4 linked regions of the Homo sapiens genome follow. The protein of the gene in region 4 interacts with the protein of the main gene of each other region in a pairwise test. Each region holds a gene or a part of one and is shown on either strand. Other genes may lie near its edges. The genes, in order: PLIN1, PLIN5, TPD52L2 and ABHD5.

Region 1 (7,929 bases), on a different chromosome or scaffold from region 4:
AAAACAACAAAAAGCTGGCTCCTCACCCTGATACAGGGATTCTATCTTCCTGTTGTGTACTAATGAAATAACTGTTCACTATTGTGGGTTCTACTTGCAGGGTTCAGACTAGGCAATGTGGTACATGCTATACAGGCAACTGAGCAGAGCATTCATGCCACTGACCTGGTACCTCGCTTATGCTTAACATTAGCCAACCTGAACCGTGTGATTTATTTCATCTGTGACACCATCCTCTGGGTGAGGAGCGTAGGTCTCACCTCTGGCATCAACAAAGAGAAATGGCGAACGAGGGCTGCTCACCACTACTACTATTCTCTTCTGCTGAGCCTGGTCAGGGATCTGTATGAAATCTCCCTGCAGATGAAACGAGTTACATGTGACAGGGCAAAGAAAGAGAAATCAGCATCCCAGGATCCTCTTTGGTTCAGCGTGGCTGAGGAGGAAACAGAATGGCTCCAATCCTTTCTACTTCTTTTATTCCGATCTCTGAAGCAGCATCCTCCCTTGCTCCTGGACACAGTGAAGAACCTTTGTGATATCCTGAACCCTTTGGACCAGCTGGGGATCTATAAATCCAATCCTGGCATCATTGGACTTGGAGGTCTTGTGTCCTCTATAGCAGGCATGATCACTGTGGCATATCCTCAGATGAAGCTGAAGACCCGTTAGGGTGTTTTTAGGCTTGGAACTAGTACCTACTTTAAAAGATGGCCTCTTGGTGGGACAGACATTTGTATAAGTCACAGGCCATGTCATACTGTGCTTAAGTTCTTGTTCATGTGAGCATTTAACAACCTGTGATGTGGGCAGAGATGAGGCCAAGAACGGAGAAGGGAGGAGCATGAAGAGTTGTATGTTTTTGGAGTGCTGGAGTGACTTGTGAATTTCTGAATATTTTCCCTTCATCTAACATTGATTGAACATCTCTTATGTGCATAGTGGGAGCTTAGTATTTGCTGAATGAATAAAAATTGAAAGGAAAAAATTTAAAAAGACCCAATCGCACTGATCATTGAACACCAGTATACAATAACTTTAGGGTCATATGGATCATTGGTTTCACGATTACAGTAGGTCTGGTGCATGGCACTCTCAGATCTAGTAGAGGCTCTGATGTCAGTAGCAGGATGGAGGAGAGCTGGGCTTACAGCCTCTCAACTTGTTGGCCCTTATACCATCACTGCACTCATGTCCTTGCTCTGTGCAGAAGTAGAATCAGAAAAGCATCAGGCACCTTCATGGTATAAATTGTGTCTATGGGTGCAGTGAATAAGCAAAAATCAGAAGCAGACCGGAGGGACTTATAAAAATAGGTACAGGGTCACAATGGGTGCCTATATGTAGCCTGTGACAGATAAGAAGCTGACAGTGAGACAAACAAAAAACTGAGGCTAGAGCCTCATTCCTCTGACTCCTAATCCAGTGTTCTCTCCATGCTCTCCCACTGTCTTCAGAATTGAGTAGAAATGTGATCCCCTCCTGAATCCTGTTTTTTGCCTCTTACTCTCCCATAATTTGGAAATTTCCTTGTCCAGTGGTTTATATTCTTTTCTAGAAAAACTAAAACTGGGTGGAGTGTGGTGGCTCACACCTATAATCCCAGCACTTTGGGAGGCTGAAGCGGAAGGATTGCTTGAGGCCAGGAGTTCAAGACCAGCCTGGGCAATGTAGTGAGACTCCTTCTCTACAACAAAGTGTTAAAAAATTAGCCAGGCATGGTGGAGTATGCCTGTAGTCCCAGATACTCTGGAGGCTGAAGCAGGAGGATCACTTGAGCCCAGGAGTTCAAGGCTGCAGTGAGCTTCCACCGCACTCCAGCCCGGGTGATAGAGCAAGACCCTGTGTCTTAAAAAAAAATTAAGACAGTATTTAGACTTATCAGTTAGATTGTTTTATTTAAATCCTTCTAACAATTTAGGCAATTCTACATTAATTTTCATCAAAATTTATCCAGTCAAAAAAATTTCATGAATACTCCAGATGTAAGAGAGTCACAATTTTCTACGATAAATCAGACATCTTATTTCTAGGGTGATTGAGGGAGGTGGAAAGCGCAGGAGGAAGCCAGTGAAGAGGACAATGGAATGCTGAGTCAATGACATTGACTTGTGTTCCTATCTGCCATCTTGGGTGTGGGTCTTTATATGTGGTTACAGATCCTTTAGTTTGAGGGAGGTGAGGTAGAGAAATAGGATGCCAGCAGGTAGGAGGCCGATGTCAGTCCTCCCAGCAAAGCTGTGTCATTTATCTGAATGGAAATGAGAAAATAAATATGTACTCAATAAGTCACATTTCCCAGAAATGTGATTGAGATTCTCAAAAAATAGACTCAGATTCTTGGCTGTCTGTTTAACCAATCACGATATGGGATTTGAGAAATAAAATTTAGGGAATTTTAAGAGACATGAAAGCTACTAGGTCAGGGAAAATAAAAAGCTTAAATAACTATTTTTATTGTCCAGATCCTCTACTGTAATAGATTAACTATGTTCAATAAATTTCTAGACAAAATTGACTTGTGTCTGTGAGTGTGTTCTGGGAAGAGAGAAGAGTTAAACATAAGGCAATCCATCAGATAATCCTCAATCAGCCTACACAGTTGGTACAGCGAGCTCTGGGCTAGAAGATCCAGGCTGAGGAGGAGGATGGAGAAAGATTGAGATGTAGAGCCTCTGGGTTGAGAGGGACCTCTGAAATGAACTCATCTAGACTGCTGCCATGGAGATGGTGCTCTACAGTAGCCCTGTCAATCGCTGGCTGGCTTCTGCCTAGGTAAGTCTGCCTTGAATTCATGGTGGTATGTTATGTTACAGTGGTATCCATCTTGGTACTTTTGTCCTCTGCAATGGTGAGTGGTGGGGAGTTTGGGAAATACTACCTCTTCTAAGAGGTTTGTGTAAACCTTAATGGTGTCCTGGTACCACCCTGTGAATCCTTCTTTGTAACTAATGTTTTCCACCCCAGAGCCTCCACATTCATGAGGGATGCCAAAAATCGAAGAAGTTCTTCGTAGATGTACAGCCCAGCACATTCACAACTGAGCATTGTTGCCTGACAATTCATTTATTCAACAATGAATGTTTGAGTGCCATGCATGGTTTTGGGTATCCACTTGTGAGCAAGATGACCTAGGTCCCTGCTCTCACTTGGTGGAGGGGTAGGGAAAGCAGGTAGGTACGGAGAAGGAAAGAAGATAGAACTCTATGCCCTGCAAGCTACTGCTAGAAAACTAACACTTCTGTCTTCCCTCGGGACTCTCCTAGGCCCTTTCACCACTTCTCACCTCTCACCCACATTCTGCACTCCCAGCTAAAGCAGCCAAAGGACTATTTGATTTGGCAGAGCTTTCAGGCACAAAGCCCTATGTTCCCTCTGGCCCAAAGCCACTACTCTGAAGGCTGAAAACTGCCCTTTGGCTCAGGTTGCTGTCCAGTCACAGCCTCACAGATAATTTGTGCTGAACCTTGAGGTGAGGGCAGAGGCCACTTCTTTAAATACTTTGTCTTCTCTACTGCCTTACATTTGAAAAGCACAGGTTGGATCAATAAGTATTAAACGTATAGCGTATTACTCCTTTGAAGCCTCCCTGCTTGACTCCTCCCTTTCCTGCCTTCTCATTCCCTACTTTATTGCATCACAGATACGTAATTTATTACCAAGGATCTTTCATAATTCCCCACCCCTGCCTCTTTCTTCTCTTGCCCACACTGTGTGACTTAACAGAGTCAACAATACATATAATTCCACCAGCAACAAAGAAAATAAGTTTTGTTTTCCTATTGTCTGTTTTCATGAAGAGGCCCTTCTTAGTTAATCTGAAAGCTATGGCTTATACCATAGTCCTCCATCATATCTAAAGCCAGGAACTAGAACTTGGGCTTGTGCTTGAGTCCTGGGTAAAGAAGGGTTGAGTGGTGCTAATTCTTGGCTGTCTGGGTGCTCTTGATTAGTGATAGAATCCTAGTCAACACTGTCGCTTATCCAGACCCAGGAGAATAAAAATCTACTTGGCTCTCCTACTCTTCATTCTGGTAGCATCTTAGGCCAGGTAAAGTTCAATAAATTTTTTTGAATTCTAAGAAGTGGGAATTCCTCCCTCAACTCAAAGGCTATATTGTCAAAAACTCAACTCCCGGCTCTGTCGCTTCTTCACTGAGGGCAATTTATCTCCATAATCAAAGATGAATACATTCAGATGAACTCTTCTGTGTGGGTTTAAATTTTACTGTTCAGCATTCAGTCTTGCTAGTAAATAAGAAAAGATGAGAGAAATGGATTGAAAACTCCCACAAGACCCTCTATGGAAAAGGAGCCAAAAGATTGCAGAGGTATATAGAACTTTAGAGCTTTTGAGTTTAATGATGTCTATCCCTATACCTTCTTTCTGGAAAGCAGATTTTTGTGAATTGAGGGCAGGAACATTACAGAACTGATGCTTCATGGCTCTGGAATACTAAGTCCTCTGAGCCTGGATCTCCTTCAGCTCTGCCACCTACCTCCTTGTTTGCTAAATGTCCTTAGAGAAGTTAGGATATGCCTGGGGAACCCTGGGTCATATAACCATGACAACTGGCTGACCCTGTTGTCTCTCCCTCTCTGCCCTCCTCTAGCTGGGAGGTGGAAGCAGCATTGCCCAAGCCTCCCAGGAGTGACAGGAATTGTTTCTGCCTGAGGAGACACTCTGCAGCCTGGGCTCTGTGAGACTGAGGTGGCGGTCAGCCGGAGTGAGTGTTGGGGTCCTGGGGCACCTGCCTTACATGGCTTGTTTATGAACATTAAAGGGAAGAAGTTGAAGGTAAGGGCCTCTTGGGGATTTTGCTGGGGATGAAAAACTCTGCAGGGAAACTACTGAGGGAGAGATTCTGGTATAGATACCAGAATCTAGAAATAGAGGAATTGGATAGGCACAGTGGATCATGCCTTTAATCCCAGCACTGCAGGTGGCCAAGGCAGGTGGATCACTTGAGCCCAGGAGTTCAAGAACAACCTGGGCAACACAGTGGGATCCTGTCTCTATAAAAAAAGAGAAAAAATTAGCCCTGCATTGTGGTGCATGCCTGTAGTCCCAGCTACATGAGAGGCTGAGGTGGGAGGGTACCTTGATCCCAGGAGGTCAAGGCTGCATTGAGCCATGATCGTGCCACCACATTCCATCCTGGGCAACAGATTGAGACCCTGTCTCAAAAAACAGATAGGGAGAGGGGGAGAGGGACAGACAGAGAGAAAGAGAGAAATAGAGGAATTAACCCAGAGCCTTTTCAAAGATGAAACCTTTAACTTGTTTATTTATTTTTTTAGAGATGGGCATCTCACTGTATTGCCGAGGCTGATCTCAAACTCCTGGGCTCAAGCAATTCTCCCATGTCAGCCTCAGTAGCTGGGATTACAGGTGCTTGCCAGTGCACCCAGCTTGAAACTTCTTGTTTTAGTCTCTTTTGGACCCTCATTTAAGAGCCTTAAGATTTTATCTAAAACTTTTTATCTCTTATGGCTACCTGCATTTTTTATTTCCTAACCTGAACTCCTTTTTTTTTTTGAGACAGAGTCTCCCTCTGTCACCCAGGCTGGAGTGCAGTGGCAGGATCTCAGCTCACTGCAACCTCCACCTCTCAGGCTCAAGCGATCCTCCTGCCTCAGCCTCCCAAGTAGCTGGGATTACAGCTGCCCACCACCACGTCTGGCTAATTTTTGTATTTTTAGCAGAGACGGAGTTTCACCATGTTGCCCAGGCTGGTCTTGAACTCCTGAACTCAGGTGATCTGCCTGCCTTGGACTCCCAAAGTGCCGGGATTACAGGCCTGAGCCACCGCGCCTGGCCTCTTAACCTGAACTCTTATAGGAAACATTATTCTTGGCCGGGCATGGTGGCTCTTGCCTGTAATCACAGCACTTTGGGAGGCCAAGGTGGGCAGATCACTTGAGGCCAGGAGTTCGAGACCAGCCTGGCCAACATGATGAAACCCCATCTCTACTAAAAATACAAAAATTAGCCAGTGTGGTGGTTCATGCCTGTAATCCCAGCACTTTGGGAGGTCTAGGCAGGTGGATCACTTGAGGTCAGGAGTTCGACACCAGCCTAGCCAACATGGTGAAACCCCATCTCTACTAAACAGAAAAAAAAAAAAAAACTAGCCGGGCGTGGTGGTGGGCGCCTGTAATCCCAGCTACTTGGGAGGCTGAGGCAGGAGAATCCCTTGAACCCGGGAGGCGGAGGTTGTAGTGAGCCGAGATTGTGCAACTACACTCCAGCCTGGGCAACAGAGCAAGAATCCATCTCAAAAAAAAAAAAAAAGAAAGAAAGAAAAGAAAAAGAAAGAAACATCAGTCTTGACAAGTAAGCTATGGAGCAACTCATTGCTATGGGACCCTAAGGAGTGGGGCTATTGTGTGTGATATTCACCCTCCAACCTAATGCCTTCTGTTCAGGGCAAATGGGCCCCCAGGCAGCCTGGGCCTAGTTGGTGGCCATGAGAGGTAGGGAAGTGACCCAGTGGAGCTCAAGCCTGAGGGCTTCTGATGGGACCTGGGACTCTGTTTTGCAGCTTGAGGAGCGAGGATGGCAGTCAACAAAGGCCTCACCTTGCTGGATGGAGACCTCCCTGTAAGTAACTTGGGCTCATCTGTGACAGGGGATGGACAACTGAGGGAGGAGGAAGAAGCAGGGAGGGGAGATGCAGGGGACTTAGAGCAAGATATTCCCAGATTATAATCCTAGTTCATTGACTACCATGGCTTAGTTATTCTTGCCCTCACCACCTTTTGTAGGGGGCAGTTGGAGGATCTGGGAGGGGAAAAAAAGATGCCTATTAAAAATTAAGCACCTTGAAAAAAAGGGACAGAAATCCTGGCTTAGGGACGGGGGGAGTGGAGAGGAAGGAAACTACTGTTTAAACCCTGACGCAGAAGCCCATGCTCTGTCCACCACCCAGCTGGATGTGCATTCAGTGCAGAGCCACTGTATTCTGTGTCTCCAGCATCATTCATAACGGCAAATGTCACCTGTCGGAGTTAGACGGTGCACAGCCTGTGCTGCTGTGTGGGGGGAAGGGTGGGATATTCCATGTGTCTGGTGTTCTATCTCTGACCTGGTTTTCACTGTGACTTGAAGTGATTTGATACTTTTAGGGATGCTTGATGGCTCCTGGCAAGGCATCTCAGATTTGGGCACAGTTCGGATAGTGAAACTTAAAAATTATGAACCTGTGCAATATCCACCTTGCCCAAGTTACGCTTTTACTAACTCCTGCACTAGGAATCACTTTGTTTTGTATTGAATCATAGAACAGAGAGAGGCGTAAAATGGTCAAGTACATGGTTAAGCCATTCTAACAGACGGTGGTTTATTCCCTTCCCAGGATCTCTTTCCTCCTTCGGTTTTGTGTAAAACAACCTCTGAAGCCTCGTCCAAAATGTTAAAAAGAATGTTTTCTTGTTTATAGTCATAGTCTATTTCTAGTTCAAATTTCAAATTCACCTGCAGGATAAAAAACTAAGATATTGGCCAGGTGCAGTGGCTCACGCCTGTAATCCCAGCACTTTGGGAGGCCAAGGCGGGCGGTTCACAAGGTCAGGAGATCAAGACCATCCTGGCTAACACAGTGAAACCCCATCTCTACTAAAAATACAAAAAATCAGCGGGGTATGGTGGCGGGCGCCTGTAGTCCCAGCTACTTGGGAGACTGAGGCAGGAGAATGGCATGAACCCAGGAGGCAGAGCTTGCAGTGAGCTGAGATCGCGCCACTGCACTCCAGCCTGGGAGACAGCGAGATTCCATCTCAAAAAAACAAACAAACAAACAACAAAAAAAAACTAAGATATTGTGGGCTGCTCTGTCTTAGTGTACATGTAGGTGTCATTGATGGGGGTCTTTGAACTCTGCCTCCTACTAACAGAACAGGTCAGGTCTTCACTTTGCGAGCAAAACC
Region 2 (4,208 bases), on a different chromosome or scaffold from region 4:
CAGCTGCAGGAGACGCTGGAGCTGGTGAGAGCCCGCTGCCCGCCCCTGCTCCGGGATGCAGGCCAATCAGTATGGATTGAGCACCAGCTGAATACCGGATCCCGTGCTAGCCTAAAGCAGGAGGCGGAGCTGGGTGCAGCTGTCTCCAGCTGCATGTGTTCAGGGCTGGGGGACCCGGGCCTGGAGGAGCCCAGGGATGTCATGGCTCTGCCTGGAGAGTCAGGGAGGGGTTTTGTGGAAGAGGGGAAGGAGAAGCTGGAATTTATAGCAAGTTAGGGTAGGTCAGAAGAGAGCCTTCCTCCTCATCAGAATCCTCCCATCCTCAGCTCTTCCCTCCCCGCAGCAGCCACCAGAGGGCACCTGTGAGCCCCTGAGTCAGGTCTGTCCCTTCTTTACCCACAGCCCTCTATGGCTCCCACCTCCCTTGGGGTCCAAGCCCAAGTCTTCCCCACGGCCCTGCACAACCTGCCTCGGTCTCCTAAATGCTTACTGAGGCCAGATCAGTGGTCCTGGACCCCACCCCGACCCCCAGCTCCCCCAGCTCCCCCAGCTCTGAAGACCACCATTTCTGTCCTTGCAGATAGACCACATGCAGTGTGGGGTGACCCCCACCGCCCCGGCCTGCCCTGGGAAGGTGCACGAGCTGTGGGGGGAATGGGGCCAGCGCCCTCCGGAGAGCCGCCGCCGGAGCCAGGTGAGACCGCAGGAGTGCCAGGTGAGGTGGTGTCTGCCACCAGGCCGCGGAGGAAGAGGGGGAGCGACGGACTGCGGGTCAGCCCAGTACTGCCGGGGACCCAACTCAAGCTATCTCAAACCAAGTGCTGAGCTCAGCTAGTTGAGGTGTCTGGGGGGGGAAACTGAGGCAGGTTTAAGTCCCATTGTGTGTTTTATTTATGTATTTATTTTGAGATGGAGTTTTATTATTTTATTATTTATTTATTTTTGAGATGGAGGGAGGTGGGGGGAAAGGGGGGTGTTGGCCCAAGCAAGCAGTAGTCCCTGGCTTCCCGCCCCTTCTCGCTTTCCCTCCCTCCACATTCTCTCCCTGAACCTATAGCCTAGAAACCATCTCTCCACTTTCCACTTTATTTATATTTATTTATTTGAGAAGGAGTCTGTCTCTGTCGCCCAGGCTGGAGTGCAGTGGCGCGATCTCAGCTCACTGCAACCTCCGCCTCCCGGGTTCAAGCGATTCTCCTGTCTCAGCCTCCTAAGTAGCTGGGACTACAGGTGTCCACCACCACGCCCAGCTAATTTTTGTATTTTTGGTAGATACGGGGTTTCGCCATGTTGGCCAGGCTAGTCTTGAACTCCGCACCTCAGGTGATCCGCCCGACTCGGCCTCCCAAAGTGCTGGGATTACAGGCGTGAGCCACCGCGACCGGCCCCATTGTGTGTTTATGAAGGAGACTGAGTCAGGGCTGGGTCACATTCTGTGTCTACAGGGGACAGGACTATGAGGTCTATGAGACAGGTTGACAGCTCCACTGTGGGTCCATCAGAGAAACCGAGGCAGGACAGCAGTCCTCCTGGGCGTCCATAGGGGAAACTGAGGTCCCCGCCCCCTGCAGGCAGAGCTGGAGACGCTGGTGCTGTCCCGCAGCCTGACCCAGGAGCTGCAGGGCACGGTAGAGGCTCTGGAGTCCAGCGTGCGGGGCCTGCCCGCCGGCGCCCAGGAGAAGGTGGCTGAGGTGCGGCGCAGTGTGGATGCCCTGCAGACCGCCTTCGCTGATGCCCGCTGCTTCAGGGACGTGCCAGCGGCCGCGCTGGCCGAGGGCCGGGGTCGCGTGGCCCACGCGCACGCCTGCGTGGACGAGCTGCTGGAGCTGGTGGTGCAGGCCGTGCCGCTGCCCTGGCTGGTGGGACCCTTCGCGCCCATCCTTGTGGAGCGACCCGAGCCCCTGCCCGACCTGGCGGACCTGGTGGACGAGGTCATCGGGGGCCCTGACCCCCGCTGGGCGCACCTGGACTGGCCGGCCCAGCAGAGAGCCTGGGAGGCAGAGCACAGGGACGGGAGTGGGAATGGGGATGGGGACAGGATGGGTGTTGCCGGGGACATCTGCGAGCAGGAACCCGAGACCCCCAGCTGCCCGGTCAAGCACACCCTGATGCCCGAGCTGGACTTCTGACCCATGGGCCAGTGGAGGCGGGGAGGAAAGGCCACCTGCACACCCCGATCCCTGCTGCCCCCTGGTGGCCACACGTAAGCTCGAGGCCTTGGCCTTGACCCTTCTTTGGAATCAGGCCCAACTCCGGATCTCTGACCACCTTTTTGGTATTGGACTCTCCCATTTTTTCCTTGAACACATGGACAAAGAGGCCCGGGGGAGCAGGGCCTCGAACCCTATTCAGGCCAACTTGAGCCACAAGCTGGGTTCTTCACCTATGTCCTGCTCCCTGGCTCCATGAAGCGAATCCAAATCTTTCCAAGAGGCTGGGCACAGTGGCTCACGCCTGTAATCCCAGCACTTTGGGAGTCTGAGGCAGGTGGATCATCTGAAGTCAGGAGTTCGGGATCATCCTGGCCAACATGATGAAACCCTGTCTCTACTTAGAAAGAAAGAAAAAAAAAAAAAAAGCCAGGTGTGGTGGTGTGCACCTGTAGTCCCAGCTAGTTGTGAGGCTGACGCAGAAGAATTGCTTAAACCCGAGAGGCGCGGAGCTTGCAGTGAGCAGAGATCGCGCCACTGCACACCAGCCTGGGTGACAGAGCGAGACTCCATCTAACAAAAAATAATAGTAACAGCCTCCCGAAGAAATACACATTTTGCCCAATGCCTTCTGTTTGGGGCTTTGAAAAGTGAGCCCTGACTGGGTGTGGTGGTTGACACCTGTTATCACAGCACTTTGGGAGGCCAAGGTGGGAGGACTGCTTGAGCCCAGGAGTTGGAGGCTGCAGTGAGCCATGATCTTGCCCCTGCGCTCTCGCCTGGGTGACAGAGCAAGACTCTATCTCAAAAATGTTTTTAAAAAATACTTCCTAGGGAAACACACATTTTGCCCTATTTGGAACTTTGAAAAGTGAGCCCTCCTCTGCCCATGGGCCGTGCTGCTCAGCCTGCCATACTCGCTTGCTTTGCTGTTTGGGATTTGCCTCCAGAATAAAGGTCCTTTTTGTTGTTGAAAGGCCCACGTGTGTGTTCCAGCCAGGGTGAGTCTCAGTCCCAGGGGGCTGGGGGCCACGGAGGTGTGTCACTGCTGAGACATGGAGAAGGGGGTGTGTAGAGCCAGAGTTCAAGATCTAGAAGAATGGTGCTTCTCTGACCTGCCTGTCATCCTGTCTGGGATCCACCGTTACTGCCCAGCCCATGTGGGGTAAGCATTACCACTTAAAATTAGCCGGGCACCATGGCTCATATCGGTAATCCCAGCACTTTGGGAGGCTGAGGTGGGAGGATTTCATGAGCCCGGGAGTTTTGACACCAGCCTGGGCAACATAGGAGACCTTGTCTCTACGAAAAATTTTAAAATGACACATGGTACGAGCCTGTGCCCCAGCTACTCGGGAGGCTGAGGCAGCAGGATCGCTTGAGCCTAGGAAGTTGAGGTTGCAGTGAGCTTGGATCAGTAACCACTCCACTCCAGCCTGGGCAACAGAGTGAGACCCTGTCTCTAAAAATAAACAACAGCATTGCCCCTTTGGCCGCATGGAAGCTGTTCTCATCTTGGTACAGGTGAATTTCATGGAATTGCAGGGAGCAGAAAAGATGGGGAAGGAGTCAGATGGGGCAGCTCTCTCTCTACCTCCTGGTCCTGCAGGAGCTGGTCTTGCTGTGGTCTCTCCAGCTGCACTGGCCAGGATGGGAAGACAGAGGCAGGGCAAGGGCCATAGGCTGGTCTCGGGGGTTTCCTCCTGTCCTCTGACCGCATTCCTGGCTGCTCTTCCGACTCCCCTGGGGCTGGGCGGGGTGTTGGGAAACCACAGCTTGGTATGGTGAGGTCAGGGTGGCCCCTGACTTCCCTGGGACATAGTCCAGAGGGCAGCTCTGGGATCTCCGACCACTTCCACCAGCCAAATCTACCTCCCTGCTCCTGTTCTGGAATCTCCCACAGGTCCCCACTGCCCACAGACCAAACTCTTCACCTTCCAGCTTCCTCCTCCAGCCTGACCTGGATACTTTGCTCTCTTACCATTGAAGTGGGCACATTCCCACCTCCGGGCCTTTGCTGAGGCTGTGCGGCCACCTTGGAATACTCTTCCCACCCCC
Region 3 (8,720 bases), on a different chromosome or scaffold from region 4:
CAGCCTGGGCGACAAGAGTGAGACTCCGTCTCAAAAACAAACAAACAAACAAACAGAAAAAACAGGATATCCAGTTAAATTTGAATTTCAGATAAACAATTTTAAAATAATGTCTCAAGCAGAAGTTGGAACATACTTATACCCAAAAAGTATTTGTTTATTTGTAATTCCAATTTAACTGGCATATTATTCTGTATTTTATCTGGCAACCTAGAATGGGGGTAATAGCCCCCCAAATCGCTCCCTTTGTTAATTGGTCCCTGTCTTCTGTCCCCCAACCCCTAAAGGCAGCAGCTGACTCCCCCAACTAGGGGCGGGGCCTGTTAGGGTCAGGCAGTGCCTCTAACCCAGACGCTGAGCAGGAGAGCAGAGAGGGGGTGCTTCAGCCTGAAACTACCCCTTCCCCAGAAGGCTGGGGTCCCAGGCGGGCCTGGCACCTGGGCTCAGAGGCTCTGGCTGGATTTGCCAAACTCCCTGATTGTAGCATGTTTGTTTCTGGTCTGGGGAGCTGTTGAGTACCTGGAGCTGCCCTCTTCCCTGGGGCTCCTCCTGGCAGGCGGCTTCCGACCCTGCCCTCAGGTGGGCTGGCCCTTTCCAGGGCAGGAGAAAAGATACCTCTCCAGAAAAGAGGGAGGCGCAGCCTGGGAGTGGGGGCTCGACCCAGGAGCGAGAAAGAGGAACCCCAGCCAGGCAGGACCCGCCCCAGAAGGTCACTGCTGTTGCTGGCAGCCAGTGAAAAGAGGATCCAGAAAAGGAGAGGGCTTGTTTCTGGTCAGCACCGAAGAAGGAAGGTGTGGAGAGGAGGGGCCGGGCCGAGAGCAAATACCGCCTTTTTGGTGCAGCAGCAGCCCTGTCTCTGACCCCGGCCGTCCTGGGGAGATGAGGTTTAAACCAGCAGACCCTGAAGGGAAACTTGCAGGACCCACAGCAAGCCTGGTACAGGCGGAGGAGGCCTTGCTGTCCCTTTTTGGCCCGTGGGGCTGTCCATCTTAAATTTAAGGAAGAGGGAGGCGGGGTGCAGGGACTCACACCTGTAATCCCAACACTGTGGGAGGTGGAGGCGGGGTGCAGGGACTCACACCTGTAATCCCAACACTGTGGGAGGTGGAGGCGGGAGGATCGCTTGAGCCCAGGGGTTCAAGACCAGCCTAGGCAGCATAGTGAGACCCCATCTCAATTTAATAAATAAATAAGGAAGAAAGAGGGAGACAGTAGCTGCTCAAATCATGGGTGGGAAAGCTGGGCCTGGGAGCGTTTAGCTGGTGGGGTCTTGGCGAAGGCGGGGGACGGGCAGAACCTTGGGTTCATCATCTCTGGGAACCCTTTGTGCACCCATCACCTAGCAACAGGATGCAGCCTTCCCTCCGCCCTGGAAGGCCAGGTCACAAAGGCCATCAGGGCTTGTCCGGGAGCCGGTATCCCCTAAGACTGCCCTGTGCCTCTCGCGGCGATCCCGGCCCAGCGGCTGGGCGTTAGGGCCACCGCTCATGTGCGTCATCTGCTTCGTGAAGGCGCTGGTGCGCGTGTTCAAGATCTACCTGACCGCCAGCTACACCTACCCATTCCGCGGCTGGCCCGTGGCCTTCCGCTGGGATGACGTGCGCGCCGTGGGCCGGAGCAGCAGCCACCGGGCGCTGACCTGCGCGGCAGCCGCGGCGGGCGTGTGGTTGCTGCGGGACGAGACGCTGGGCGGGGATGCGCTGGGGCGGCCTCCACGTGGGGCGCGCAGCCAGGCGCAGTGCCTCTTGCAGCAGCTCCGCGAGCTGCCCGGCCAGCTCGCTAGCTACGCGCTGGCCCACTCGCTGGGCCGCTGGCTCGTGTACCCCGGCTCCGTGTCCCTGATGACGCGCGCGCTGCTGCCGCTGCTGCAGCAGGGCCAAGAGCGCCTCGTGGAGCGCTACCACGGCCGGCGCGCCAAGCTGGTGGCCTGTGACGGCAACGAGATCGACACTATGTTCATGGACCGCCGCCAGCACCCGGGCAGCCACGTGCACGGGCCGCGCCTCGTCATCTGCTGCGAAGGCAACGCGGGCTTCTACGAGATGGGCTGTCTGTCTGCACCGCTCGAGGCCGGCTACTCCGTGCTGGGCTGGAACCACCCCGGCTTCGGCAGCAGCACTGGCGTGCCCTTCCCTCAGCACGACGCCAACGCCATGGACGTGGTGGTCGAGTACGCACTGCACCGCCTGCACTTCCCGCCCGCGCACCTGGTGGTCTACGGCTGGTCTGTTGGCGGCTTCACGGCCACCTGGGCCACCATGACCTACCCGGAGCTGGGTGCACTGGTGCTGGACGCCACCTTCGACGACCTTGTGCCGCTGGCGCTGAAGGTCATGCCCCACAGTTGGAAGGGGCTGGTGGTGCGCACCGTGCGCGAGCACTTCAACCTCAACGTGGCCGAGCAGCTGTGCTGCTACCCGGGGCCGGTGCTGCTGCTCCGACGCACGCAGGATGACGTGGTCAGCACTTCGGGCCGCCTGCGCCCCCTGTCACCTGGTGACGTGGAGGGCAACCGGGGCAATGAGCTGCTGCTGCGCCTGCTGGAGCACCGCTACCCCGTCGTGATGGCGCGAGAGGGCCGCGCCGTCGTCACCCGCTGGCTGCGCGCTGGCAGCTTGGCGCAGGAGGCCGCCTTCTATGCACGCTACCGCGTGGACGAGGACTGGTGCCTGGCGCTGCTGCGCTCCTACCGTGCACGCTGCGAAGAGGAGCTGGAGGGCGAGGAGGCCCTGGGGCCACACGGACCCGCCTTCCCATGGCTGGTGGGCCAGGGCCTGAGCTCGCGGCGGCGCCGGCGCCTCGCACTGTTCCTGGCTCGGAAGCACCTCAAGAACGTGGAGGCGACTCACTTCAGCCCTCTGGAGCCTGAGGAGTTTCAGTTGCCCTGGCGGCTGTAACCTATATGCCCCAGTGGGGGATCACGCACTTGAACTCCTGGCCTTCTTGGTTCACCTCCCCATACCGCCAACCATTGCAGGGGGCCGGCGCCGACGCGGGGCGGGGCGGGGGGGGGCGCGCGGGGTGCTCCTGATCTGCTGTCTGGGGGAGGGTAGGCAGAACACGGGGACTTGGTGCTCTCCTTCCTTCACAGGGGCGTTCTGACCGTCCTCCCATTCTTCCTAGCTCTGTCCCCTCCTTTCTCTCTTCCTCCTACAAATACTTTTGGCTGCCCCCACCCAGCTCCTAAGGGAATGAAAGGTTAACCTGACCCGGTTTATGGCAATACTGTGTGATGGGTGCCTTGATCACCACAAAAGGATGATGGGAACGGGGCTGTGGGGTCCCAGGGAGGAGCCCTTCACCTGGCCTGGGTTACAGGATGGCTCCTGGGAAGACAATGCCAGCTGTGCGCTGAAAGTCTGTGCAAGCTGCTCCCGTGAAAAGGAGGACATTGGCATGGCAGGGCTGTGGGCAGGTCTTAGTGGCTGGACATTCCCAGGAGTTAGCACTGGCTATCATTCTGTAGGGCTCCCTCCCACCTCCAAACTCCTGGCTTCTACACCAGGGCATTCACAGACAGATTGCAGACTCACATGGTGGCATGTGAGGCTACAGATACACTTGCACAGGCCAGAGGATACTACTGCGTGTCCCCTGGAGCCAGGCCTGGGCTGGACTTTGTTCCTGGCTTAGGGATGCAACACAGAATGGGACAAGGCCTCTGCTCACAATGGTCTGTAATGTCACATCTCTGTGGTCTGCCCTGAACTGCCTGAAGCAGGGACTATTGTCCCTACATGTCCCTAGTCCCCGGGCTGGCCTGGTTGGGTTGAGCAAGAATCTCTGGAAAGAATGAAAGGCAGCAAATGGAGAAAACATTACTGAGAGCACGAGAGCAGGCTAAGGCCGTGGTGGTAAGGGACTCGGGCCTGTGCAAGAGTACCAGGAAGACACCTGTGGGAGGAGGTGGCCGGGTGAAGGAAGGGGCAGTGGGAGGAGCTTCCATGCCTAGGGACCAGTACCACCCCAGGCTGGAAGCCCAGAGTGGAGTCCTAGGACATCAGATCCTAAAGGGCTTGAATACCGTTTAAGGCTTTTCTTCCGGGAGCAAGTAGGAGCCAAAGAAGGGAAGTTGCGGGACTTGTTTTCGTGGGGCCAGTTGCCTGGTGGTTACGCGCCTCTCCTCTGAAGTCAGGCATCCTGTTCCAGAGTATCCTGGTTGCGCTTCAACTTGCGGAGTGACCTGGGGCAAGTGACTTTAACCTCAGCTTCCTCATCTGTGGAGTGGGGAGGGCGCAGCGCTGGTCGCCCTGAACAGGAAGTGAGACAACCTCGGGGTGCACACGCGCAGGCCCGAGCCGCAGGGTCCACGCCCGAGGCGAGGCGGCAGCGGCGCCTGCAGGGCGAGGGGACGAATCGCGATCTTTTTCAGAGTAACCCGCGTACAATAAAAAGTCCCCATGAAAAGGACAAACTAGCCAGGCGTGAGGGGCGGTGGCTCACGCCTGTAATCCCAGCACTTTAGGAGGCCGAGGCGGGTGGATCACCTAAGGTCAGGAGTTCTAGACCAGCCTGGCCAAGGTGGCGAAACCCCCGTCTCTACTACAAATACGAAAATTAGCCGGACGTGTTGGCGCGCGCCTGTAATTCCAGCTACTCGGGAGGCTGAGGCTGGAGAATCGCTTGAACCCGGAGGGCAGAGATTGGAGTGAGCTGAGATCGCGCCATGGCACTCCAGCCTGGGCAACAAGAGTGAAACTCCGTCTCAAAAACAAACAAAAAAGGACCAACTAAAAAAAGAATATAAATACAATAAATAACAGGACTTACGGGGGCAGGCTGACCCCTAAAGTAAGGGGTCGGGCTGGAAAGGATCTCAAGGGGTCAGAGTTTGAGCCGCCGAGGCGCGCGAGCCCCAGCACTCCTAGGCAGCTGCATCCGCCCCGGAAGATCCCCTGGGGCCCTGCGCTGGCTTTCCACAGCGCCATGTTGGACGGTCCTCCCACTTCCCACCTTCCCAGTCCTCCCGCTACTCTGACCGTTCTACCTGTGATTCTCGCTGGTGGAGTCAACCTGGAATGGATTCCCGCCGAACCACGCCTCCCTTTCCTGGTTCGCCCGCAGTTTCGGCCTATCAGGTTGAGTCGGGTAAACCAGGACGGGCCAAGCGGCACTCTCATTGGATATCACTGGTGGGGGCGGGAAGAAGGCGGAGCACGTGCCCGGGCGGAAGTAGCCGTCGCATCGCGGATTACGAAACGCCGCGGAGCTGAGGCAGTTCCGCTGGCTAGTGTGTACGCGGCGAGCTTCTCCCGGCGCCGCCCGCTCGGCTCCCATAGCGCCCGCGACAGCGGTCCGGACGCCGCCCGAACATGGACTCCGCCGGCCAAGGTACCTGCCGGGCCCGGCCCCTTCGCCGCAGATGGGCCCAGGCTGCCCGTTGTTCTCCGTCTCCCGGGGTCGCGTCTGCGACTCTCTGTCCTCTCGGTCTCGGTTCACCCACCCCGCGGCCCCTCTTCAGCTCCCGGGGCCACTGACCTCGAAGCTTATGATGGTCGTGGTGTGTTTTTTGCCCGCGGCCCAGACCGCTTCCTGGGCTCTCTCCAGCCGCCCTCCTGGTCTCCCCTGGGACCGTTCCGAGGTGTGGTTCCCTGGCGCCCGCCGTTGCTCCCGTAGTTTGGGTTCTGTCGCTCCCAGCAGGTCTCGCTTATGCCGCCCACCCCGTGCCCTGCTCTTGCTTGCTCTGCCACCCCCCGGTCCCTGCGCGGGGCCCTCGGGTTCACGCTGTCTGGCCCTGGACCCAGTCCGAGGTGTTGAGGGCGGCTCCCGAGCAGAGAAGGGGTCTTCGCGTTCAGCAGAGCTCCCCTTGGGCAGCAACTCTGCTCGGAGCTCAGCCTGCTTAGGGGTTGCCTCATGGAGAGGGGGTGGAGTGAGTCAGGGGCACACCCAGCATACCAGGCCTGTTTCCAGAACAGTCTCCCCAGAGCAGTATGAGATGGCCACTGAGGGGCGTGGAGCGAGCCCAGGAGATTAAAATCTTGAGAAGATGATAAAAGTCTGCCTTGCATTTTGGGGCTCTAGAGAGGGATGCTAAATTTCTTTCTTTCTTTCTTTCTTTCTTTATTTTTTTGAGACGGAGTCTTGCTCTGACGCCAGGCTGGAGTGCAGTGGCGCGATCTCAGCTCATTGCAACCTCGACCTCCCGGGTTCAAGCGATTCTGCTGCCTCAGCCTCCTGAGTAGCTGGGACTACAGGCACGCGCCACCAGGCCCAGCTAATTTTTGTATTTTTAGTAGAGGCAGGGTTTCACCATGTTGCCCAGGATGGTCTCGATCTCTTGACCTTGTGATCCGCCCGCCTCAGCCTCCCAAAGTGCTGGGATTACAGGCGTGAGCCACTGTGCCCGGCTACATATTAAGCTTTATAATTCCTAGGTGCTGCATTATTCTGGAGGGTGTTTTTTGTTTGTTTGTTTTTGTTTTTTTGAGATGGAGTCTCACTCTGTCGCCCAGGCTGGAGCGCAGTGGCTAGATCTCGGCTCACTGCAAGCTCCGCCTCCCGGGTTCACTGCCATTCTCCTGCTTCAGCCTCCCAACTAGCTGGGACTACAGGCGCCCGCCATCATGCCCGGCTAATTTTTTGTATCTTTAGTAGAGACGGGGTTTCACTGTTAGCCATGACGGTCTTGATACCCTGACCTCGTGATCTGCTTACCTCGGCCTCCCAAAGTGCTGGGATTACAGGCGTGAGCCACCGCGCCTGGCCTTTTTTTTTTTTTTTTTTAATTTTTTTTTTGGGGACAGCGTCTCCCTCTGTCTCCCAGGCTGGAGTGCAGTGGTGCAATCATAGCTTACTGCAATCTTCAACTCCTGGGCTCAAGCGATCTTCCTGCGTCAGCCTCCCAGGTAGCTGGGACTATAAGACTACAGGCGCACCATGCCAGGTTAATTGGTCTTTCTACTTTTTTTTTTTTTTTTGAGACGGATTTTCGCTCTTGTTGCCCACGCTGCAGTACAATGGCGCGATCATGGCTTCCCGCAACCTCTGCCTTCTGGGTTCAAGCGATTCTCCTGCCTCAGCCTCCCGTGTAGCTGGCATTACAGGCGTGCGCCACCATGCCCGGCTAATTTTGTATTTTTAGTAGAGATGGAGGTTTCTCCATGTTGGTCAAGCTGGTCTCGAACTTCTGACCTCAGGTGATCTGCCCGCCTTGGCCTCCAAAAGTGCTGGGATTACAGGTGTGAGCCATTGTGCCCAGCCTCATTTGTCTTTTTTTAAATAGAACAGAAAGGCTGGGCTCGGTGGCTTACGCCTGTAATTCTAACACATTGGGAGGCCGAGGCCAGTGGATCACTTGAGGTCAGGAGTTTGAGACCAGCCTAACCAACGTGCCAAAACCCCGTCTCTACTAAAAATAAAAAAATTAACCGGGCATGGTGGTGTGCTCCTGTAGTCCCAGCTACTTGGGAGGCTGAGGCAGGAGAATCGATTGAACCCAGGAGGTGGAGGTTGCAGTGAGCGGAGATCGTGCCACTGCACTCCAGCCTGGGTGACAGAGTAAGACTCGTCTAAAAAAAAAAAAAAGAGAATCAGTGGATAAAAAAGTGGATACGCTTCGTTTAGTAAGCGTTTGTGGAGCGCCAAGGAAGTGCACACGGCTCCAGTCCTATGGGACATTTGAAGGGAGTGAGATGCAGCCAGCTTTTAAGAAGAGTATCTTTGTTAAGTGCATTTAATCTGGTGTCTTTGTGTTGTCTTTTAAAAGGCATAGTTTTTTTTTCTTTTTCTTTTCTTTTGTTTTTTTTTTTTGAGACAGTCTCAAAAAAAAGAGACGGGGTTTCACCATATTGGCCAGGCTGGTCTTGAACTCCTGACCTCAGGTGATCCGCCCGCCTCAGCCTCCCAAAGTGCTGGGATTACCGGCATGAGCCACCCCGCCCGACCAGTTTTTCTTTTTTTTTTTAAAGAATTTTTTTTTGGCCGCGCGTGGTGGCTCAACGCCTGTAATCTCCCGGGTTCAAGTGATTCTCCTGCCTCAGCCTCCCAAGTAGCTGGGAACTACAGGCGCGTGCCACCACGCTAACTAATTTTGTATTTTTAGTAGAGACGGGGTTTCACCATTTTGGTCAAGCTGGTCTCGAACTCCTGACCTCATGTGATCCACCTGCCTCGGCCTCCAAAAGTGCTGGGATTATAGGCATGAGCCACTGCGCCTGGCAGTAAGCCTGTTTCTTTTCAGAATGTTTTGGTCAACAGGGAAAGTGTTACAATAGTCATGTGCTTGGATTTGGAGAGAATCGAAATAGACTGTTTTTCTTTATGTGAAATCTTGTAGACTTTTAGGGTAGTCAGGAAGATGCATTTGACATGAAGAAAAAACAGTGGCTGCAGGAATTTGAATGTGATCTGGGTGTAGTTGAGGTGTGTGGTGGCAGCACACCGCTCTGCACCTCTCTGCCTGCTGGCGGCCTTCTGGCAGTGGGATGAGAATCGGGAGGTAAGTAAAGGGAATTTTGTTTTGCTGCCTCCCTGAAGGAGCTGAATGAGCAGCATGTGCTCCTAGTACGTAATTTTAGCATGTGCTCTGTCAGATGTGTTGAGAGGAAAGTGATGCTTATTGTGTATATTAACCATATTAGGTTCCTTTTTTTAAAAAAAGTGGAAATTTGTCAGGGTATGGTGGCTCACACCTGTAATCCCAACACTTTGGGAGGCCAAGGCGGGCGGATCACCCGAGGTCGGGAATTGGAGACCAGCCTGGCCGACATGACGAAACCCCG
Region 4 (8,014 bases):
CTTGTCTTTTATGGGCAGCTCCATTCTTCCATTCGTTACTTTTATAGGACAGTTTGAAGAGAAGAATGAAAAGGCCTAGTTTAATGCACTTGTTTAAGAAGGATTCTTACTCTAAAGAACAAATAAAAGCTGATCAATTTTTGCCAACTTTTGGATTACAGGCGTGAGCCACTGCACCTGGCCCGGTTTTTTCTTTTAATTTTCCTTTCCTTCTGGCCCCTGCTGCTCAGTACCCCATTAAAAAAACTATCTGTATTTTAAAGATATTTGTTATAAACTACGGAAAAGGAGATTATAGAAACTTTAACTTAGAAAGTGTTTAGCAAAGAGATCTATTCCAAGTTAGATTAGAATAAGTTTTCACTAGTCTTTATTTCTCTAGTAAAAGGTTTTTAAATAATTTTATCTTGAATACTTTTCTTTTGCCTGGCTCTGTCTTCTGATTGTACAGAACTGAGCTGAGCAATTTTTGTTGGCCCTCTGCTGTTCTAGGAAAAGCTGTTCTACTTGATTCGAAGTTGGAGATATTTAGTTTGTTGTTCTCTGGGCATTCCCTTTTCTCTCACCAATGGCTTGGAGCCAATGGGAAATACCTGGGGCCAACTTCATTTTGCAAATGCCTCCTTTGTGCATTGACTAGAGTTCTTTCTGATTATTTTCCTTAGATTCACTTACACATTTTGATTCTAGGTCTAATTGTTCTCCTTTCTTTTTTTTTCCCCCGAGACAGTGTCTTGCTCTGTTGCCCTGGCTGCAGTGCAGTGGCACCATCTCGGCTCACTGCAACCTCCGCCTCCTGGGTTCAAGTGATTCTCGTGCCTCAGCTTCCCGAGTAGCTGGGATTACAGGTGTGCACCACCATGTCTGGCTATTTTTTTGTATTTTTTGTAGAGACAGGGTTTCGCCGTGTTGGCCAGGTTAATCTTGAACCTCTTGCCTCAAGTGATCCACCTGCCTTGGCCTCCCAAGGTGTTGGGATTACAGGCATGAGCTACCACGCCTGACCTGATTATTGTTCTTGTTGCATTATTTCTGACTGGTGGCTGTCTTTAAATCTCATGAAGGTCAGGCTTATCTACCCTTGTTAGCATTTAGAGCAAGTGAAATCAGGTCCTAGTGTGTTGGTACAGGTGTTGTCCACTGCTTTGCCCTTAAGGATGTACTCTGCTCACCATCTTCAAACTCAAGGCCAATTCTAATGACTAACATTAAGAAGAATGCCTTTGTATATTTCAAAACTGATGAGCTGTTCTGTTGTTCCTGCTCTGCTGGTTCTTTGTTTTTCTTGTGGTTTAAACCAGTCTCTGGTTCTTGACAAGGATGTCTAATAGGATGACTCACATGTGCTATCTGGTTGGACCCATTCTTTACCCTAGATGTGAACTAACAATCCCAGCAGGGAACCCTCTCTGGAATATTAAAGAGTAGGGTTTAGCTAATTATAATAATTTAGATGTACATTAAAACCCAGTAACTCCTATCAAGTGAGGAGATAATATTTTTACTAAAAGCGGAGGTTAGAAGATAGCCTGGGACCTTGGTCTGGTGCAACATTGCAGTCACCTGTGATCAAGCTCTTCTGAAGAATAAATACCTGTCTTTCCATGTTCCCGGGAATAAATTCTACTCTTGTAGTCTTCCTATTCTTGCTACTGTAACTAGCTTACATTTACTGAATACTTACTATTCGATGGCCACCAACCTGAGTGCTTTGCATGGTCTATCTTATTTAAAATTCTTAAAACCAAAAATAAGGAACAATTATTTTCTGGGGTCTTTACATGTAGTAGAAGCAGATGATATATAACTACAGTTAACTATAGTTTAGATGTTGTAGAGTTTTAAAAAATTATGTTCAAACTTTTTTTACTATAGCCCTTCTATATTGTTTGGAATAGAAAAATACAATTGTATCACCCCACAAAACTTGTTTCAGACACCCATGCACATATACATTAATACAATTTTGTGGCCGGTATTCAATGCTTATGATTTATTTTTCTGTTCCAAACAGTATAATTTTATTTTAAAAAAGACTAGACTGGTTCTTGACCATCTAAATGGATTTTGTTACCGAATAATAAGATTAATAAATAGCAGTGATGTTCTGATGTCATCTGGGGGACCAGAAAAATCCAGCTGGATATGCTTATGCTATGATTATACTTTATAAAATTTGTATATCCTTAATAGACTAGGACTAAAAGAAAATGTGGAAAAGCATATTAATCCAAATGTTTACCAAGCATCTGCCATGTGCTAAGCCTCATGCTAGGTTATGAAGACATAGAATTGAGCAATTGTAGGGACAGTAGAATTGAGCAATTGTAGGGACAGTAGAATTGAGCAATTGTAGGCACGGTTCACTCCTTTTCAAAAAGAAACAAAAAGATCATCTGCCTTAGTATATATACTTTGCATAATTTGTTAAACTGGCATTTTCACCTAGGGATGAAATTTTGAAGATCATATTTAAAAGGCAAGCCAGAACTAAGGCAAAAACAGTCACTTACCTACAGACAGATGAGACTTCTGTCAAGTTTTCCTTTGTCCTACCTGTTTTTGGGTTAGCAGGTCAGAAAGAGCTTAGAGCAAGATCCATTAACAAATTTGTGACAAAAATTTAACTAAATTGTTTAGGGTAGGGTATGTTTTAATAAAGAGTTCATTTTTCTCTTTGGGAGATAAGTCAGTAGTGAATAATAGTGGCTGTTTCTTAACATGAATCTTTGCTGCTTTCAACTAGGTGGCTGTCTCATTAGTTCTACTCATACCCCTGTTAGGCCTCTTCCTTCCCCTACCCCAGATCTTATTGTGGGCTATAATTAAAGGAATTTAGGGCCGGGCACAGTGGCTCAGGCCCATAATCCCAGCACTGTGGGAGGCCAAGGTGGGCAGATCACGAGGTCAGGAGTTCGAGACCAGCCTGAGCAACATGGTAAAACCCCATCTCTACTAAAAATACAAAAATTAGCCAGGCGTGGTAGTGTGTGCCTGTAATCCCAGCTACTCAGGAGACTGAGGCAGGAGAATCACTTGAACCTGGGAGGCGGAGGTTGAAGTGAACTGAGATTGTGTCACTGCACTCCAGCCTGGGCGACAGAGTGAGACTCCATCTCAAAACAAATAAAAATAAAAAGGAATTTAGGAGGTGGTCAAAATATAAGAGTTAGTCTTTGCCATTAAAAAACAAAGCAAAACACTCATTTCTAACCTCTTTCTGATACACTATTAGAAAATGTTCTCATATGAAATTTTTAGGCTGTGAAGGCATACTTCATAATTAAATGAAACTCATTTATCACATATCTTCATACATCTCTATGGTTATATTCTACATATGTTAATGCTATGAAGTTTGGAGTATAATATTAGGACTGGCCTTGAGAGTTGATAAAGGTTAAGTTTTACCTTTACTAATATGTCTCTCTTATGTTGATTAGCCTATTTTTAGAAAATAAAGCCTTCTGCCCAATTCCTTGTCGGCATCTGCTGGTATGCTGGGGTAGAGAAATGTGGGTTTCAGCCCTAGTTCTGTGTTAACTAATGTTATGTACCGGAGCAGGTCATGTAGTACATCTCAGCTTCCTTCTTATCTAAGATGATTGCACCCAATATTCTCCAAGGTACCATAGAGCTCTGTGCACCAAAGCTTTCTGTCTGGAAAGAAAACAGTCACAGTATGGACCTGTTACTAACTTATTCTTATGCATGCTGACAACAATAATAGAATAGATTTTATATGAAGAATAATACCATCTGTGCCCATGTTTTAGATTCTTTACCTTTCTGTTTCAGTTATAACTTAGGAAAGGGACTTTAGAGTCATTGTCAGTTATCCTTGGGAGATTTTTGGCTGGCATTTCTTGGCTGGCTTGGTTACAGTTGAACATTGTATTGTATCAGAAGGATCTTTGTACTTTGTTTGGAATCTTTATGATGTTTAAAGCATGATGCAGCTATGTGGAAGTACTGCTGATAGTTCTGGTTTTCCTTCATTGGGAAGAAGTTTCATAAGATGGAAAAATTAAAATGATTAACAATATGAAATAATTGTATATGAAGTTCTACTGAATATTTTCTATCTCTTGGTCAATGAAAAAGAAAATTGGGAAAGAATTGAAAACAGAATCTAATGTCAGTATAGCGTGATATCATGGATAAGGTAGATAGACTTGTTCCTTTTCAACAATTCTAGAATCCTGAACTAGGGAGTGTTTTCAGTCCACGTTACGTTATCCTCATGTTTATGAAAAGTTAATTTAAAGTACTTTTGAACCCGCTTTAAGTCCTTAACTTCACTTACATTTTTAGGATGGTTGATTCATAGGAGATAACTGTTGTTGGTATCTGAGGCTATTTTATAAGAATGTGATATTGATCTTTAGCCATTTTTGCAGTGTCAACCTAGACATACATGGAACCATTGGATTTTTCTGAGTGGCCAGTGATCTACATCATCTGCCAGAGTGTAACTTAAATAACAAATGCCCTTTTTTCTTTTTCTCAAGAAACACACAGTTCTGTACTCTATATATCTTTTATTATTCACATTTAGATATATTAAAAATAAAGCCCTCTTTCTACCATACACCTCTTAGATCCTACTGAATCTCAAAAGTTTACACAGAATAAGAGCATGATACGATCTATTTAGCACTAATCTTTAACGTGAAGGTTTTTGAAGGTGGTTCATTCTACCTTTATTTTATAAATCATGTTAGCTCTTTATAGTCTTAGGGTGATTTTACCAAATGAACTTAAATATATTCTTTCCCCCAACAGGGTTAATCATCTCATTTTAGTGGAGCCTTGGGGTTTCCCTGAACGACCAGACCTTGCTGATCAAGACAGACCAATTCCAGTTTGGATCAGAGCCTTGGGAGCAGCATTGACTCCCTTTAACCCTTTAGCTGGCCTAAGGATTGCAGGACCCTTTGGTGAGTGCTTATGTTCTAGGAAAGCAAAATGTTTGTAAGTTATGAGAAGAGCAGAATTCACTATTGTTAGTCAAAATCTTAAAAACAAACAAGAAAACCCTGAACCCTTACTTTTTCTCCTCTTCCTCTAATAAGTACCATGTCTTGCACAAAGACGAATGCAACTAGGTTCTTCTCCTCAAAGGAGAGTCTTTATATTGTAAACATTGTGAATAATTAGCAAAGCAGAAAAGGAGGGAATGCTGAGGATAAGGTTAGTCAGTCCTCAACACTCTAAAAAAAGCCAGGCAAGCAGAGTGTTTTGGGGAGTATATAAGGACCTCTGCTAGTCCAGGGCCTGGGAGAAGTGTAGCATGTTGCCCTGCTGGTGAGCACTGGAGAGCGTTTGGCCAATTGATGATACCATTTGGTACCATAAAACCTGATTTGATTGACCCTGGGGATAACAGGTACCACCACACTCACAGATTCTTCCCTTATCCATGTCAGAGTGTTGGAAAGATAAAGTTATTTTTTCCACAACATTTTGGGGACTCCTGATATATATTTCTGGTCATATTTTGAGGCACCAGTGTTTAGTCCCTGATTGACTTTTATTTGACTCTCAGCAGTTCTGTCTCAGCCCCATAGCCATGGGAATTTCCTTCCCTCATTGTCACAGATAATGATGTTCTGAACTTCTGCCTTTCCCCCGTACAACTTGTATGAATTTGGAGTACTTTTAGTTGTAAGTAACTGAATACCCAAGAGGCTTAAACTAGAAGGACTTTTATTATTTCCTTAATAAGCAATCTGGAGATAGGTTTTAGCACTTGTTCTGGTTGCTTGCTCATTGATGTTAGGGTTTGGGTCTGTGTCTGTGATTTTCTTGACTTTTTTCCTCACGGTGGTTTGATGCCTGCCATAGCATTAAGCATCATCTCACAAATCAGCGCCCTGAGCAAAAAGAAATAAAAGCACGAAAAATGGTCCTTCTCTCCATAATGCTTTGTCAGGGAAGAAAGTCCTCTCTGGAAGGCTCCACCTGACCTCTGCTTATGACTCGGCCCACTCCTAGTCCTTCCACCAGCAAAGAAGAAATTTCTGTGATGCACCAATCATGATTTGTTTCCAGGGCCTGCTTTCCTGGGCATGTTGCTGCCTAATTGATACTATAGAAAAGATGCGTTCTAACCAGGTGCTGTGGCTCACACCTGTAATACCAGCACTTTGGGAGGCTGAGGTAGGCAGATCACTTGAGGCCAGGCTTTGAGACAAGCCCGGCCAACATGACAAAACCCCATCTCTACTAAAAATACAAAAAAATTAGCCAGGCATAGTGGCACACACCTGTAATCCCAGCTACTCAGGAGAGGAGGCTGAGACATGAGAATTACTCAAACCTGGGAGGTGGAGGTTGTGGCGAGCCAAGATCGCACCACTATTCTCCAGCCTGGGCAACAGTGCAAGACCCTGTCTCAAAAAAAAAAAAAAAAAAAAGGAAAAGAAAAGAAAAAAGAAAAGATGGGTTCTGTTAGTGAGAAAAGAGAAGAGGCATGGGGGTGTGGAGGAGGTTGTGGGATTAACTGTCATGCAGGTGACTGTAAATGCTGTTCCCTTCTGCCCAACCCTGACCCCTCCTGCCCTAGTGCCTTCTGTTTGGATTGGGAGAGCAGTGGGACTGCAGGACTTAGAGGAGGATATGGGGGTTGAATTGGTGACCACACTTTATTGCTTCAGTGCTCACAGATGGCACATTTTGCCCACCTGCAGTCTTTCAGCCCTCCCCAGTAGAGCCACTCCTTACTATGCCTGGTCCTTCTCTGGTAAACTACTTAAGAGCTTCATTTAGTCTTTATAGTCCTGAAATATAAATAGATTTTACTAGAACACAGGTACAAAAATAACAATTATGGGAAAAGTAAAGTATGAAGAGAAATTAGGAGACAGTGATGGGCAAGGGAGGACACCTAGGAGAGGCTCTTTAATGCCATGCCCTCAGCCTGCCATTATTGCTTGCACTTGGGGGTGGGGAGGTGATGTAGAATCAATTGCATGACAGAATTTCTTGGTGGAGCTGTATAATTCATCAGAGATGGGAAGAGAGGGCCAGTAGAGAAGTAAAGCCTTGCTGGAGTCATGGGGTAGTGGTAGCAGAAAGGGAGACCAGTCAGTCTCTGGGGCCTCAGAATAGAAAAGTGTGACTAGAAGAAAGCTTCTGCTCTTCATCCTCTTTCCCTTGTGGGCCTTGCCCTGGGCTTTTTCTTTTCTTTTCTTTCTTTCTTTCTTTTTTTCTTTTTTTTTTTTTTTGAGACGGAGTCTCGCTCTGTCGCCCAGGTTAGAGTGCAGTGGCGCGATCTTGGCTCACTACAACCTCCACCTCCCAGGTTCAAGTGATTCTCCTGCCTCAGCCTCCTGAGTTGCTGGGATTACAGGTGCACGCCACCACGCCCGGCTAATTTTTGTATTTTTAGTAGAGACAGGGTTTCACCGTGTTGGTCAGGCTGGTCTCGAACTCCTGACCTTGTGATCCGCCCACCTCGGTCTCCCAAAGTGCTGGGATTACAGGCTTGAGCCATCACGCCTGGGTGTCCTCGGCTTTTTCTAGAGTGGGGCTGTGGGCGCCACCAGGGATAACCTTAGCAGGGAGTCTCGCTAGTGTCCCAAGAAGAAGCTGAATTTATTTTCACACAGAAATAATTATGTATACCAGTTTACTTCATTTAGAAGTTAATGTGTTATAATTATGGAAGAAATACAAGTTATTACATTAATTTTTACGTACGAGCTACTCGCCACGTTTAAAGAATTTATTTACCTACAAAAGTGCCTTCTAACTTACATGTTTTTGAGGCCCTAAAGTACATCTGCAAGTCAAAATACAATACTCTTTACTTCTTATATTAATATTTCCTTGGGGAACTTTAGGAGGACAGCTATCAGAATGTGTGCTTTTTCCCACCTACAATATATATTTGAATACATATATATATGTGTGCATATAACACTCATTACACAGACAAGCACTAAAACTTTCTATATTATTTAGTTGATAAGTTAACTATAATTTAAAACATGCATTTTTTAAATTTCCT

What was found.
Region 1: the proteins of ABHD5 (region 4) and PLIN1 interact in a protein complementation assay, tested with the Homo sapiens proteins (3 studies listed by BioGRID, with this or other methods).
Region 2: the proteins of ABHD5 (region 4) and PLIN5 interact in binary tests that used the Homo sapiens proteins (3 or more experiments, as listed by UniProt).
Region 3: the proteins of ABHD5 (region 4) and TPD52L2 interact in binary tests that used the Homo sapiens proteins (3 or more experiments, as listed by UniProt).

The regions. Positions count from the first base shown.
Region 1 is NC_000015.10:89,676,120-89,684,048, reverse strand, and holds the start of PLIN1 (perilipin-1), read left to right. Parts: upstream 1-4,681; 5' UTR 4,682-4,798; intron 4,799-6,545; 5' UTR 6,546-6,559; coding exon 6,560-6,604; intron 6,605-7,929. Other genes in the region: PEX11A (peroxisomal membrane protein 11A), read left to right, coding at 101-672. UniProt on the Homo sapiens protein: Modulator of adipocyte lipid metabolism. Coats lipid storage droplets to protect them from breakdown by hormone-sensitive lipase (HSL). Its absence may result in leanness. Plays a role in unilocular lipid droplet formation by activating CIDEC.
Region 2 is NC_000019.10:4,521,449-4,525,656, reverse strand, and holds the end of PLIN5 (perilipin-5), read left to right. Parts: coding exon 1-24; intron 25-580; coding exon 581-694; intron 695-1,571; coding exon 1,572-2,129; 3' UTR 2,130-3,126; downstream 3,127-4,208. UniProt on the Homo sapiens protein: Lipid droplet-associated protein that maintains the balance between lipogenesis and lipolysis and also regulates fatty acid oxidation in oxidative tissues.
Region 3 is NC_000020.11:63,860,054-63,868,773, forward strand, and holds the start of TPD52L2 (tumor protein D54), read left to right. Parts: upstream 1-5,216; 5' UTR 5,217-5,312; coding exon 5,313-5,331; intron 5,332-8,720. Other genes in the region: ABHD16B, read left to right, coding at 1,488-2,897.
Region 4 is NC_000003.12:43,706,924-43,714,937, forward strand, and holds part of ABHD5 (1-acylglycerol-3-phosphate O-acyltransferase ABHD5), read left to right. Parts: intron 1-4,785; coding exon 4,786-4,940; intron 4,941-8,014. UniProt on the Homo sapiens protein: Coenzyme A-dependent lysophosphatidic acid acyltransferase that catalyzes the transfer of an acyl group on a lysophosphatidic acid.